2 separate regions of the Homo sapiens genome follow, and region 1 is linked to region 2. The links come from fine-mapping of genetic effects on gene expression. A gene starts in region 2. The other region holds a variant in brackets. All regions are shown on one strand. Distances are from middle to middle.

Region 1 (4,408 bases), 43 kb before region 2:
TGAAATGTTTATAACTCAAAGAAATGATAAATGCTTCAGGTGATGGACACCTCATGTACATTGATGTGATTATTATACATTTTATGCCTATATCAAAATATCTCATATCTCAATATATACATACCTACTATGTATCCATAAAAAATAAAAACTTTAAAAACATATGTTACAATTGCTATACATGTATATGAGAATTGAAATATTAAGTAAATAGATGATGGGTGATGGGAGCCAAGTTTCTTATTGTTGAGAGTGGGAATTTAGAAATAAGCAAGGGAAGGAGACTAGAATCATCCATGTGGTAATGGATTAGAGTCATGGGCACCAGTATGAACTCGTGTTTAGCTTGATTCAGATACAAATGGTTGCATATGGAAATATTTATAGATGTGGAAATACACAGGATAGCATACCCACATATATTTCCTTGGTCTGTCAGCTGAGAGGTCCTAGAAACAATGACATCCCTGGAGCAGTGAACACACTTAGCTCTCTTGGCTCCCAGATATTGCTAATACCATTTTCCAATAAAACGAACCAGAGCTCCTTGAAGAAACAGCTAATTATAGCACTGGGGCAGAAAAAAAACACAAGGTGAGCCTGGATCATCTTACATTGCCAGAAAGTACTCAAAAAATAAAAATAAAAATAAAAAAGACCTCAATATGAGTATGTCAATGGGACTCAAGAGCCAATTTCAATGACCAAAGCTGGAACAATTTGAGCAACAAAATAAAGTGGTATTAGATTATATAATCAAATTATAAAATAAATACCTATGAGTCCACACTGATATACATAAATGATTGAATAAATAAATAAGGACTAAGCCAAATCTTCCATGAGAGGAATTTCAAATGCTGTATGTAGATACTTCATTCTCAAGGAAGTAGAGTGTAACTCCTCACCTGGTAAATGTGAGCTGAATGACTTCTTTCCAAAGAGTACAGTGTGGAAAGTAGGGAAAAAGAGTAACTATATAGTGGAGAAACCTAGCAATCAGCACCTCATCCAGGGATCAAGTTTAACTTCAACAATGAAAAGTCATGTTGATAGCATGTACTCTTTACAGAATGATATAAAAATGAAGCATTACTTCTGTTATCTTCCTTTCCAAGACACATAACCATAATCTAATTGTGGAGAAAATACTGAACAAATTCCAACTGAACATTCTTTAAAAACCTGACCAGCACTCTCCACGACTATCAAGATCACCAAAACCAAGAAAAGCCTGAGAAAATGAATGAAATATCTAACCTAGATGAGATCCAGGAACAGAAAAAAGGACACCAGATGAACCCTAAGGAAATCTGAATAAAGTATGGACTTTAATTAATAATAATTTATCAGTATTGGTTCATTAACTGTGACAAATGTACCACACTTATTTTAACATGTTAATAATAGGAAACGTTGGGTGTTGGTCATATGGAAACTCCTTGTACTATCTTTGCAATTTTTCTGTAAATCAAAAACTATTCTAAAATAAAAAATTCTTTAAAAGGCAAAAGGCCAGTAAACATAAAAAATTCTAACACTAGTAATAGTAATAAAATTCTGCAAATTAATGTAAAAATCTTAACAGCTTACTATAACTCAGATTATTAATTAAAATTGGATAAATGGATGTTGTTTTCTTCTTAAACACTAATTTTCAACTTGGTATGTGGTCTCAGATGTCAGCAAATTTTGGTCTACAGTAATTTTTATTGAACATCAGTTTCAATAAAAATTGACCATCTCATTTTCTAATATTTATATTATTTGACAAAGAAACAAAGTCACTCCAAAGAGGGATAATTCTCACCTGTTCCTCCTTGTTGCCCAAATTAACATAAGCCAGGACTACAAGTCTCCAGAGCATAGCTGGTAAATATTTAGTAGAGCATTTCCCAAATTAAATTACATAAAGTGACAAATGCCAACAAGTGTTCTTTCACAAAAACAAAAAAGTAGGATGGGAGTTCTTTAATGAAATATTACATTCCCCCCTTTTAAAAAGCAGTGTTATTTAGTGTAAAAGACTGGAACATCCCAGAGTAAAGAAACCTATTATCTCACTTCGTATGGTCATTGTACAACTTTTGAGAAGGCATATGTTAACATCTGAAGGAACACTAGACTTCCAAGTAATAAAACGCATTAAGATTATTCAAAAAGAACTTTAATCTAAATAATTTTAAATCCCCTTTTTAATCTTGCCAGATGCTTCTGCCTGGCATTCACACCCTTTTACTATACAGCCTGTTTATCCTTCGTTGTACACTCATCCCATGTCTCAGAGGTTCTTCACCACAAACCTCCACTCTTACAGAGCTTCTTTGTATATCTGGATCTTAATTTTATTTCTTACTCGCCT[A/G]AGACATTGTGCCATCTGACTGTCAGAAACATATTCTTCCTTCCCTCCTCTCCAAATGCTACCCATCTTTCCAAGCCTAGCTTAAACCACATCTGTTGCACAAAACCCTCCCTCATTTGTCCAGACCCTAATCATTTCTTTCCCCTCTTCCTTCCTATACTTCTGTCTGTAATACTAACTTTACCACTTAGTGCACAACATCCAATTATTTCCCCCAATAGTTCTCAAAATGTGTTCCATGGACCCCCAAGTTTTAATTTGGTGTTGTTTTTCCTATCTCTTGGTGCTAGGATTCTAGATACCTTATTGAGGAAACTGCTAACTTTGCTACTGTTTCTGTCTCTGAGTGCATGCAGCTGTGTATCTTTCTCTCTAAGAGTCTATAATTCTTTGAAAGTAGAAAATATGTCTTTCACTTATATGTAACCTATAAAATGTAATGTTTAACATATGGTACATGAAAAATACTTGTGGCCTTGAAATATTCCTGAGCAGTCAGAGTTTCAGGCATTCCAAAATAATCTGGTTATTCAAGGAACTTTTTAAAGAAACTTTCTGTCCTCACCAGAAGCCAAGAGTTATGGAACCCCCACTGTAATCTTCAACCAAAATCCCAATTCCAGACTCAAATCCTGGGGAGGAAATGTTCATTGCATAGTTTACTAAACTTCAGAGAAAAGTGTAACTGACCATAAGAATAATTTCTGTCCTGGCTGCTAAGCTTTCTTTGAGCTCATTGACATGGCCTCGTCATCACCAATCAACTCTTATCAAGTTCCTATTCAGACATGAATCTGTATGAGTCACTAGACTTAGCTGTTATATATGTGGCCCTTATTATTGCAAAGTTTATTCACAGAGCAGGTTTAATACAAACATGGATAACAGATAAGTGAAAGTATTTTGTAAAAACACAAAATAGAAGTCAACGTTTTAAAAAGCACTCTATTTCATGATAGAGCAAGTGTAGGACTGGAGAAATGTGTAGCATTCTGTTAGCTAAGATGCAAAAAGAATTTCTTCCTTTATGTGTGACCTAAAATCCTTTCTATAGGAAGTTCTTTCATATAATTCACATGGAATTATATTAATTCTATGAAAAGAAGTGCTAATCCATGTGTTCAAGCATAAAAGAAGAGAGAGAAACTCTGTGAGTGTGTGTGTGTGGTGCAGAGGCAAGATGTTAAACTGAATTTCTATTTTCTTATTACAAAATTGTTCAATGCATCCATTTTGCACTTTTTACTGCTTAGTATCTCCATCATTCAAACAGTACTTCGGATATGCTAAACTGTGTGGATACATATATACATATATATATATATATAATATCACATCATACACATATAACAGTTATATTATGAAGTCTCAACTCAACACAAAACTTATGTTTTCAGTTAACTGTCTCTACCTGTGTTCTATGAGATCTCATAGAGAAGAAGAGGCCTCCTTAAAGAGTCCACAAGTTGTCTGCTCCTTTCTGATTTAGAACTCCTTCATTTGGATATTTAAAATAGTACTAATAATTTTGAAACTTTGATCTGGAACATGGACCAAGTTTTCTCCTGCTCCAGGTTCTGCCTGCATCTCCCCTTGATTCATCTCACTTGGGGGAAGGAGGTGGAGTGGCGTGCCCTGCTCTTTACTTCCCCTTTCTCGTCCATCTTCAGAACATCAGCTCCTCCTTCTTGGGGGTGAGTGTCTTACTGTGTTCAGGCTGCTATAACAGAATATCATCAACTGGGTGGCTTTAAACAACAGTTCTGAAAGCTGGGATGTCTGAGATAAAAGCTCTACTAGATTTGATGTCTGGTGAGAGCCCATTTCCTGGTTCAGAGGTGGCATCTTCTCTGCATCTTCACATGGTGAAAGGGAGTCTCTGTGCTCTGGGGTCTCTTTTATAAAGGCACAAATCCTATTTATGAGGGCTCCATGCTCATGACCTAATCACCTCCAAAAACCAACCTCCTAACACTGTCCCATTGGAGGTTAGGTTTTAATATATGAATTTGAGGAAGATATGAAGATACTGATTTAGTCAATAGC
Region 2 (4,408 bases):
TTAATGATAGCAATCATAAATTCCATTCCCGACATAATGATATCTGTTTTTAACAAAAAAACAAATCACTTTACCAATGCTTTCAAAAACTTGTTAACATTAGATCATTGTCAAAAGCCCCAATACCTGAATAATATATTTCTATATTACTCTGCAGAATCTATCACATTTAAAGTAATAAATGTTAAAAATTATTATACAAAATCTAGATCTCAGTCTGTACATTTATAGAGGAGTAATTTTTTCAAGCATCATCCTAGAATTTTTATGGGCAATTTAATAGAGAAATTGATATTGAATGAAGCCTGCAACCTCCTCAGGAATGGGAGGAAGTCGAAGTTAGTCTTTATTGCTGCACAACCTTCCAGTTGAACCCAACCTCGCTGAATTCATGCACTCAACATTTTCTGGTGTAAATATCTACATAAGTAATGATAAATGCTACACTGGTATTTCAAGGATAATAAACCAGAATTTAACTTTTAATCTTTGCTCAAATGCTTTGAACAGCATAGTTTTATCTTTTTCCTTAGCAAAGAAGTAGACAGGTTATATTAGTCATCACACACTGGAAGGAAAAAAAGACCACTTATGTGTTAGAAATTTGGCTTTGAGAACTCAGTCTATTTTCCCAAGCACAATGACCCAGTTTTTAATTGATAGCTGTTAGGACAGTATCTTAGGTGGAGGAGCGTCTCATGAAGCATGTAGGAGTTGCAAATAAGAGAGGCTTGCTTTAACTGGAGAACTGAGAGGTGTTCAGATGGTGAGTTAGGAACAAAGAGCAGGAGAAGGAAACAGCAATGACTTACCTGTAATACTTTGGTCAAATTGTTAAATAGAGCCTGGCCAGCACTCACTTTGTATTTGACGCCTCTGACTGTGCCATTTTTGCTTAAAATGTTGACTCTTCTTGTACCAAAACCCTTCTCACTGGCAGCCCTTGCTAACACCAGCAAGCTATCCTGGTCATTCTCATTCTCATCACCTTCTGACTCTATGTGGCCATTCTGCTGTCCATCGGAATCACCTAGTCCATCTATCCCACAGATACTGGCACATTCAGAATCCAGAGAGCCTGACGGTTGCCCATCTTCATACACTTCCTTCAGAACTCGCCCACTGTGAGAGGACGCGATCCGAAACCGGACTTTCCGTGGCCTGTCACTTTCTGGCTTCATCTCCCTTTTAAGCATGGTCACCTCCACCCATATGAACAGTTTACAGCATTCTGGACCCGTTGTTACTGCACTAGTCCACTTGCCAGATAGCAATATCAGAGCCAATTCTAGTGATGGCAGCACTCCTGTGAAACTAACATCAAAAGGAAAGAAGATTCCCAAGGACTTACAGTGTGTCTCTGCTATTAATAATAAATGTGTGTGTGTGTGCTATGGTTACCTTTAAACTAAAACCCGCAAAATGATCTCAGCCTTTAAATATTAAATAGCCATGGTGGACTCTTTAACAGGACAAGTGCAAGAAAGTGGCATGCAGCGAATCTGAAAATATGTATGGGGCAAGAAAATGAAAGGCTTGAACTTTGAAGCCAATGGTGGGCATTGAAAAGGACCTGAGCAGTGGACATGTCTCTACTATTCATTGTCCAAACCAGAGGTTAGAGGTAAAATGTGGAACCAAGTTTGTAGGATAAGAGCAGTCACAGTTTTCTCACAGGACTTATTTATTCTTTAAAGGGCAGTGAACACGCTGCATGCTGCATGCCTGCATAGAGCTATTACTATTAGTTCTTATTAAATCATCAGTTAGATTTCATCTACATTGCATAAGATGAATGTCCAACTTACATCTGTCTTTACCAAGCTAAAGAATAGCTTGGTAACAAAAATGCGATTTTTTAGCTTTTTTGAAAAGGAGAACTTTTGCTTTGTTGCTTTCCCCCTTCTGCTAGTAGAAAATGTTGTTCTCTTTGACAGAGAAAAGGTTTCAGAAAGAAAACATATGCAACAGTAAGGGAAGAATGGAAAAACCCTCCAGGCTAGCCAGATCAGCCAAAGCAATCCAGGTAATCAGCATTGATAAATATTATATCCAAATCACCCATGCATAGAGAAAGTTCCTCCTCATGCTGTGCTCAGTGTATTTTCTATCACTTTGGCAAGCACCTAAGGAACCTGTTACGATATATAAGGTTATATTGAAATGTACACTATAGTGAGTTCCCCAAGCTGTCTGCACCTCCTGAGGGAGGAAAGCAGCTTGCGTGCATAAAGTACCACGTTTTTAATTTTTATAGTTTTGGTCTCATTATGAACTTAATTTACATTTATTTTAGAAAATTCAGAAAATAATAGCAAGAAGTTGAAAATAAAATCATGAAAAATCTCACTAGAGATGTTAATAATTTTGTGTATTTTCTTCCAGTGTATAATGGCAGAGATGCTCCATGGCTCACAAAACCAGATTGCCCAGACTCTTGAATTTAAGGGAAAAGGGAACAAGTGCCTAGCTTTTGACAATAATTGTGAGCAAAAGTGATGCATCATTTACGCACCAAGTCAATTGAGACAGAGCCTGCCCTGTCTGTGCTATGTTTCTTCCTGCCTCAACTGCTAGCTGCATGGCCCCAGAGCAATCTGGAAGCACTACACTGAGCTTGTCAGAGTTACAGAGAAATTAACAACCACGACCACCCTGCATTAGATGATGTCATGGGAAAAAATAAGCCTTTATTGTGTTAAGCAATGAAGATTGAAATTTAAGAGTTGTTTGTTAGAGCAGATATCATTACTGAATCTGATTAATATGCTCTCATATACAAAAATATATTGCATTTATTTAGTATCTTGGTTTTTTCAGTCAAACTTATAACATGAATCATTTCCCATACCATTATTTCTGAAAAACATAAATTTAATGTGTGTATTAAAAAACCTACTGATAGCCATGTTGTATTTTACTTTATTCTTTCTGGATTGCTAGATGTTCATAATTTAAAATATTTGGTAAAATAATGCCATAATTAATATTCTTGCTTAAAAATCAGTGTACATATATCTGGTTGTTTAGCATAAATTTATTTGGGTAAAATTGATGAGGTAAGAATTTTTACAAATTTAAAGCTCTTGAAAAAAATTGTCATTTGCTTTTAACACAAATTGTATAACTTACACTTCTACTAGTATATGAGTGCCTGTTTTATTGCACTTTTGCCAGTGCCAACACTGAATACAGGCATACCTCAAAGATATTGTGAGTTTAGTTCCAGACTCCTGCAATAAAGCAAATATTACAATAAACAGTCACATGAATTTTTTGTTTCCCATTGCATAAAAGTTATGTTTATACTATACTATAGTCTATTAAATGTGCAGTACTGTTATGTCTTTATAAAATGCACATATTTTAATTTTAAAATATTTTACTGCTAAAAAATGCTAACTATCTCCTTAGCCTTCAGAAAGTCGTAATCTTTTTGTTTAAAAGGGGTCTTCCCTCCATGTTAATAGCTGCTGACAGATCAGGGTGGTAGTTGCTGAAGGTTGGAGTGGCTGTGGCAACTTCTTAAAATAAGACAACAACAATCTTTCACAAAAGATTTCTCTGTTTTATGCAATGCTGTTTGATAGCATTTGATCCACAGTAGATCTTCTTTCCAAATTGGAATTGATCCTCTTAAACCCTGCCACTGCTTTATCAACTAAGGTTTTGTAGTATTCTAAATTGTTTGTTTCCATTTTAACAATGTTCACAGCATCTTCACCAGGAGTAGATATCATCTCAAGAAACCACTTTGCTCGTCCATAGGAAGCAACTTCTTATCCATTCAAGTATTATCATGAGATTGCAGCAATTCAGTCTCATCTTCAGGCTTCACTTGTAATTCTATTTCTCTTGTATTTCCACCACATGGAAGTCATTTCCTCCACTGAAGTTTTGAACCCCTCGAGTTATCCAGGAGGGTTGAAGTCAACTTCCAAACTCCTGTTAATGTTGATATTTTGACCTCCTTCTATAAATCACAAATGTTCATAATGGCATCCAGAATAGCAAATCCTTTCCAAAAGGTTTTTAATTTACTTTGCCCAAAGCCAGCAGAAGAATCACTATCTATGGCAGCTATAGCTTTACCAAATGTACTTCTACAATAATAAGACTTGAAAGCTCAAATTAGGCTGGGCGCAGCAGCTCACACCTGTAATCCCAGCATTTTGGAAGGCCGAGGCATGCAGATTGCTTGAGCTCAGGAGATAGAGACCAGCCTGAGTAACATGGCAAAACCCCAAAATCCCCTCTCTATAAAACAAGACCAAAACAATTAGCCAGGCATGGTGGCTCATGCCTGTAGTTCCAGCTACTTGGGAACTGAGGCAGGAGGATCACTTGAGCCCAGACAGTCAAGGCTGCAGTGAGCCAAGATCATGTCACTGCATTCCAGTCTGGGTGA

Which allele goes with the higher level. Alleles are on the strand shown, and positions count from the first base shown. SD is a standard deviation of normalised expression in the study named.
In carriers of allele A in region 1, the expression in testis of the gene that starts at base 1,750 in region 2 tends to be lower than with G alone (large effect, 0.86 SD a copy in GTEx).

What was found. PIP is the estimated chance that this variant, and not a neighbour inherited with it, causes the effect. A credible set is the group of variants that fine-mapping cannot tell apart.
Region 1: its variant is the best candidate, but not a certain one, in a credible set for the expression of GRXCR1 in testis (GTEx, PIP 0.83).

The regions. Positions count from the first base shown.
Region 1 is chr4:42,933,523-42,937,930 of GRCh38, reverse strand. All of the region lies in intron 1 of GRXCR1 (glutaredoxin and cysteine rich domain containing 1), which reads right to left. Among named protein-coding and RNA genes, the nearest start is that of GRXCR1, 43 kb to the right of the region's middle. The variant A/G (reference allele first, on the strand shown) is at 2,363.
Region 2 is chr4:42,890,055-42,894,462 of GRCh38, reverse strand. GRXCR1 (glutaredoxin and cysteine rich domain containing 1) reads right to left here and starts at 1,750. Exons shown (of 4, transcript NM_001080476.3): 1 at 813-1,750. The coding sequence starts at 1,196. It also overlaps the pseudogene RN7SKP82.